Regions from separate parts of the Homo sapiens genome. Here region 2 is reported to be linked to region 1. Evidence: microRNA targets listed by miRTarBase, many of them from high-throughput screens and not tested one by one. Region 1 holds a microRNA gene; the other region holds the end of a gene's coding sequence.

Region 1 (3,213 bases):
CCATTAACGTCACACATAAGGATTATAATATATCAACAACTTCAAGCTGGGCAGAGAATTTCTGGTATCACAGTTCACTTCTATGGGTCTTTGCTTTGCAATTCAACTGAAATTAAAAACAGAAAAACTCTCTATTGGTTTTGAAGCATATCTCCCATGATTTTTTTCCTATTCCCCTCCCCTCCCCGAGTCATCTGCCCTTTATTACTTGCCTTGGTCAGAGGGAGAATATAATTTTAGAAAAACACAAGCAGTAAAAAGCAATTTCTATACCAAGGAAATAATAATGGTGATAATCCAGATCACATAGAAATTAAATCTACTTTCCTAAACAGTAAAACCAGCTAGCTTTGCATGTGTTCATACCATATGATTAATATTAAAGCATAAGGCAACCGGCCGGGCGCGGTGGCTCAAGCCTGTAATCCCAGCACTTTGGGAGGCTGAGGTGGGCGGATCACGAGGTCAGGAAATCAAGACCATCCTGGCTAACACGGTGAAAACCCGTCTCTACTAAAAATACAAAAAAAAAAAAAATTAGCCGGGCATTGTGGCGGGCGCCTGTAGTCCCAGCTACTCGGGAGGCTGAGGCAGGAGAATGGCGTGAACCTGGGAGGTGGAGTTTGCAGTGAGCCGAGATCTCACCACTGCACTCCAGCCTGGGCGATAGAGCGAGACTCCGTCTCCAAAAGAAAAAAAAAAAAAAAAAAAAGCATAAGGCAGACACTACCAGCACTGCACCCTCATTAGCCAGCCAGCTTTGCAGACTCACCACCCCCACAGGCTGTCCTGGAGGTTCCTACGCCTGCAGTGGGAGCTAAGAGGTCAGCTGTTGCCCCAGAGCCGACCCCAGTAACCTTTGCAGCTTCCCTGAGGGCTTCAGGGACCTGCACCCTGTTTAGTGGGCACAGAGAAAATGGCTCATGTCCTGGAAATACCCAGCCTGGCTCCATTGGGCTGTAAGTAGTTCCTGGCAAAATTCCTCATTAGGTAACAATTTGGATGGTGGTGGAGATGTGTCCCTCCTACTTTACCCAAGAGGTGGTAGCGGTGTGGCCTGTGGGAATTTTGAGGGCAGCGGGCAAAAGTCATTCCAGTCCCAGGGCTCAGCTCCAGCAGCGCCCAGGGGCATCTCAGAAGCAGCTACATCATCATCTGTACCACCCCACGCCCTGTGCTTGTTTAGGGCTGAGATCCTATTGGGAGGCATTTGGGGAGGAGGTGAGCTGCGCTGGCAGAAGGTTCAGGGCCGGTCACTGGGGATTTTCCTGCCACTCACATCCCCTTCTTTCAAGTCTTCTTTAACTCTGCACAGATGGGAGTAACAGAAGATGCTGGTTTCCACCTCATCATTTTTTACCTTCTCACCCCCAGAAATTAATCTTCGCATAAACCTCAGGACCAGCACAATGCCTGTCTCAATAAAATGTTAGTTTCCTTTCCTTCTGTATCTCCTGCCTTCCCCTTCCTGGCCACCTAAGACACAGGGCCGTTATGTTGCGGTGCCCTACTTCGCAGCACCCCCAGACCTGCCCAGGGCTGCTCCCCATGCCAGAACCCTCCCTGTCCCCTAAGAACCTGACTATCCTTTGTTTCATTCCCTAAAAGCCTTACTTTTCAAGGCTGAGGCTGCAGCATCCTTTATACTGGTATACACTTTCATGTTTACAAGTGTCATTGGGCATCTACTGGTACTCATCTTAGTTACCCTTGTAACAGAGCCCTTAGATGTCAAACCAAAGCAGTGACTGACACTGAGATTTGTGGCTGCCTGGGTAGGTAGAGAAGAGAGAGAGAGTAGAGTTGACCATGTTTCTCAGCTCACAAGTTCCTATGATGGCTTGGAACCCTGACCAGCATTTTCTTCTGAAGCAACACCCTCGTGGTATGTTCAGCCTTTTTCTAGATCTCTCCAAGACAGAGAAATACTTGTTGCTCCTGCATTGAGGTTGGGCAGATGGGCATTACTGGGGCACTAGTGGCCAAGTTGCCCTGATCCACCCACCTGAGACCAGGTATGTGTGTGGTGGTGCAAGCCACTGCTTTTTCAGGCTGGTGCTGCTGGATGAGAAAGTCCCAAAGTTCTATCATTGAAGGAGCAGCACAAGAGTGAGGACAAATACCTTCACAGGCAGCAAGAAAGTGGTACACAGCAGGGAGGGCAGTGGGCACCTGGGGGAAGAGCAAGGCCCGAGGAGTGAGGGGAAGCAGGCCAACCTCGACGATCTCCTCAGCACCTGAACGCCAAGGCTGGGGAGATCCTCGAGGTTGGCCTGCTTTCCCTCCTTTTCTTACAACTTCTGGAGAAGCGTCAGCCCTCTGCAGGGAGGCGGCCAAGCTGGCAGGCGAGTCGGCGAGGGTGTCATTGCTTATATGGCTGCGGGGACCGAAGCTAGGAATAGACGCGCTGAGGGCTAGGAGGGCTCCGACCGGACGGAAGGATGCCGCATCGCGGGTCGCTGCCCGGAGCTGTGCGAGTTCGGTGCTCAGCCCCAACGGCGCTTTAGGCGGGTCCCCTAGGTTCTCGCCCTTGCGCGCGCAGCCAGGACAGTGTTTCTGCGCTTCCTGAGGCCAAAGCGGGTCTCCCCGTTTTTTCCTCTGGGGATGCCAAAAGCCACTGGAAAAGACAGGAAGCTGTCGCCCCGTCGCATTCTCAGCAAGATGAGGCCGAGTAGGCAGCGCCACCTCTCCCGAGCGCCCGCGCCCCGCTGCCCCAGCCGGGGAGGGACTGGAGGTGAAGTCGCAGGTGCGCTCCCCAGGGAATATCCGGGCTCGCAGACCACGCGGCACCGCCCCCGCCTCGCCCCGCTGCTCCTCCTCCCCCATTCCAGGTGTCTCCTTTTCCGCTTGCCCCTTAAACGTCCCCCTTCCGCAGGGGTCCTGCGAACCCCATCCACTGCCATGGCTCATTCTAACACCTTCACTGGGTGTCTTTTTGCATAACACTTAAAATAAAAATGGATCTGAATCTGATCCCGGCTTCCAGCTTACAGGACATGTCGAGGACAGAGGCACAAGTGAAAGTCCACCCAAGGAATGCAGTCAGCAAAGCCACGGTGTGGGGAGCTCTCTCCAGAGGGTAGGGGAGAAACCCAAAGAGTAAAAGAGACTTTAAAACCTGCCAACCAATCCCAACCTGATGTCCTAATTTGAATCCTGATTCAAATCAACTGCTTTTAATGGAAACTTAAAACTTTAGTGGAAATTTGAACC
Region 2 (3,000 bases), not on the chromosome of region 1:
TGTATCCTCGGTGCCCTGCCTGGCGTGCCGGAGCAGTTCTCGGAACGTGCACTTCCTTCTCTCCCTCTCGTGCCCTCCTGATGATGGACACTGACCCTACCCCTCCCTCCGCAGATGACATGGGCGATGAGCAGCGTGGCAGCGAGGCGGGCCCAGACGCCCGCAGCCTGGGTGAGCCCCTGGTAAAGCGGGAGCGCAGTGACCCCAACCACTCCCTGCAGGGCATCTAGCAGCCCCGGCCGGCGCCTCCTCGAGGTTCCAAAAGATGCCGCCTGGTCACTCTGGGAACCTGGATTTCACCGGCTCCACCAAATTAGTGCCTCTTAGATGATGTGATGTTTACTTTGACTCAAGCGGGGGCTCCCGGGGTCAGTGTTCAAGAAGGAAAGCAGTTGTTGAAGCTACAGAAGCCCAGGCCAGGGCTCCCACTGGCTGTAGCTGTGCTCTGGGTCCCCAGGTCCCTGCGCAGCCACCAGGGCCCCACCAGACCATGGGTTCCTTATTCTGGACAAACCCTCCTCTGCTGGAACCCTGGACTTTGGCCCCAGTCCCTTTAAGAGCTGAAAGGGCTGTGCTGAGAGCACTGGCCTCTGCACTCAACTGGAACCAATTTTCACCATGATTTTAAAAATTAAAAAAACCTGGCAGAGCCCGACTAGAAAGGGACGGCCTCTCCCCTCCTACCTGCCACCGCTGGGGAGGCACAGAGCTCGCCAGCGTCCCTGGAGTCCCCTCAGGAATGGAAAGTGGAGTGCCCTTGTCTGGTAGCACCATGTGGGAGGGACCCAGCTGGGCGCAGCGCCCTGTGGCCTTTTAGATCCAGACCTCCCTGCCGGATGCCCCGAGGCGGGAGGCCGGCTGTGCTGCAGGAACCCATCTCCAGATGCCAAAGGACTTGAGGGGCAGCTGACAATCGCTGTGTCCCGGCAGATCCGCAGCTCGAAAAAGAACAAGCCACAGAAACGGGCTCGCTCGTGCCAGGACACAGCAGTGTCTTTCAAAAAATCAAAACCAGAAGTTTTATCAGCAGCAGGAAGGATGTGGGACTCTGTCCAAGTTCACCGTCACCATCAAGCCACTGGCTGTGGAAGGAGTTTGTCCAACAGGGTCAGTGTCACAGCCACAACTTCAGAAAGCAGCCATCCCGCGTGTCGTCCAAACAGCAGTGCCTGCGTCCCGCTCCACGGAGTCTTCCAGAACACCTCCCTCTGAACTAATCCCGGAGCACCCCACCCCCAGCGAGTCCCACCTGGACCTCTTCAAAGTCAAAACTCTTCTCTCGGGACAAACAAATATTCGGGACTTTCGAAGCCCTGAACTTGAGACACCAAGTTTGTCTCCATGGAAACACGTAGCCGCTGCAGTTGGACAGCTGCGTGCTGGAGTTCTGTCCCCAAACCAACTGCAGAGAAGAAAGACGAGCCTCGGCCCAGGACGCGATTTCTAACGAAATGCAATAGTTTTCTCTTTTTGGAAAAATGTTTATACCAATAGTTTTGTGCGCTAATTGTTATTAGAACGTTTCTTATGAATGTGTACATTGCAGTATATTCAGTCCCAAATGTTTTGTTCTCATTCACACAGAAGGTACTAATGTCAGCTCACGTGGCCTTTAAAAACCTACTTCCCCGCCCGCAGGAGCTCAGAGCATCGCTGGGCCTGCGCCAGAGTGAGGGGTGCAGGAAGACAAAGACGCGTGCTCACTTTAGAAACGAAAAGCTGGGAATAATCACACTGTTTGTCTGGTCGTATAGCCCAAACCTTAGTTGAAATCAGACAGAAAGAATGTCTTTAAAATATACATCTCCTCTCCTTGGAGACACTGAAGCTCACAGTTAACGGATTGTAATGCCCGGCTTTTCCTCACTCCTGGTAACCAATACAAGCTGGTTTCTGCCTTAGGCTCTGGCCTGTCTTTCCGATCCACGAGGAGGAACAGAGGTGGCAGCGAAGCCACAAGCCTCTCAGGCCTGGTCTCATTTTTCATAGCAGTAAACACACTGAGCGTGCCCATTTTTGGACTCACTGTCCACACTCTAGGCCCTGTCCCCCCGCCGTGGGACACCAGCCTGCCGGGCCTGCCCCACTCAAGACCCAGAGGGGAAACCACAGAGGTGCCCCCTGCACTTGCCTGCGGGCTCCCTGGGGATGTTCTAGTGCCTTCCGGAAGGAGCCTGGGCCCCTTACTTCCTTAGCAAGGCCTATCCTGAGCCAGTGATGGCGCAGAAACCGTTCTTTGTCCAGGATGGTCAATGGCTCCTGTTTACACTTTGGGTTTTTTTCTGTTGTTTGTTTGTTTTTTTAAGAGACGGTCTCATTCTATCACCTCGGCTGGCGTGCAGTGGCACTATCATAGCTCACTACACCCTCAACCTCTTGAGCTCAGGTGATCCTCCCACCTCAGCCTCCCCAAGTAGGTGGGACTATAGGCGTGCGCCACCACATCCAGCTAATTTTTTTTTTTTTTTTTTTTAGAGATGGGGGTCTTCCTGTGTTGCCCAGGCTGGACTCAAACTCCTTGGCTCAAGCGATCCTCCCACCTTGGCCTCCCAGTGTGCTGAGATTACAGGCGTGAGCCACCGCCCCAGCCTCCTGTTTACATTTGTTACAGGCTAGACCCACTCGGATCTAGCGGAGGAAGCGGGTGTGCCAGTCTCGGATGCGAACCCCTGGTTGTCCGCAGGGTTTACTCGGGCCAAACTTCAGAATCATTGAGAATCAGTGCATGAGCTTGCTCAAAAATGGCCGATTCCTGGACCCATTTCACAAGGAGCATGACTCGGTGAGATTCGGGTAGGAGCCAGGAAGCGTGTTGTTGCTGCCATTCCCTCTCAGGGGACTGTGGTGCGGGGCTATAGGACTTTGAAGAAACCCTACAGAGGAGAGCAATGGGCTCAGGAACCAGGCAGGGCCCACCTGCGGGAGGGAGGGTGGCCCACAGAGGCTAGTACAGTTGCTGGTCAGCCAGGCCAGTTTCCCGAGTGCCAGGCCAGTGCCCCG

The links. The annotated mature microRNA hsa-miR-3150b-5p reads CAACCUCGAGGAUCUCCCCAGC and lies in region 1 at 2,250-2,271, opposite strand. An mRNA with a match to its seed (bases 2 to 7 or 8) in the 3' UTR can be bound and repressed. Matches are read on the target gene's strand: a 7mer-m8 pairs with bases 2 to 8, a 7mer-A1 pairs with bases 2 to 7 and ends in A, and an 8mer does both.
Region 2: miRTarBase lists RFX2 as a target of hsa-miR-3150b-5p. Seed matches in the 3' UTR shown: 7mer-m8 at 252-258.

The regions. Positions count from the first base shown.
Region 1 is chr8:95,070,712-95,073,924 of GRCh38, forward strand. It overlaps MIR3150B (microRNA 3150b), which reads right to left and starts at 2,285; the gene lies at 2,200-2,285. It overlaps MIR3150BHG (MIR3150B host gene), which reads right to left and starts at 2,471. Exons shown (of 2, transcript NR_132986.1): 1 at 2,218-2,471. MIR3150A (microRNA 3150a) reads left to right here and starts at 2,203; the gene lies at 2,203-2,282. LOC124901980 (a long non-coding RNA gene) reads right to left here and starts at 1,542. Exons shown (of 2, transcript XR_007061013.1): 1 at 1,035-1,542; 2 at 1-106. It also overlaps a transcript of NDUFAF6 not described here. RefSeq lists a silencer at 2,678-2,777.
Region 2 is chr19:5,992,065-5,995,064 of GRCh38, reverse strand. RFX2 (regulatory factor X2) reads left to right here. Exons shown (of 18, transcript NM_000635.4): 18 at 115-1,901. The coding sequence ends at 230. The region is part of intron 1 of RANBP3-DT (RANBP3 divergent transcript); the gene reads right to left. Among named protein-coding and RNA genes, the nearest start is that of RANBP3-DT, 15 kb to the right of the region's middle.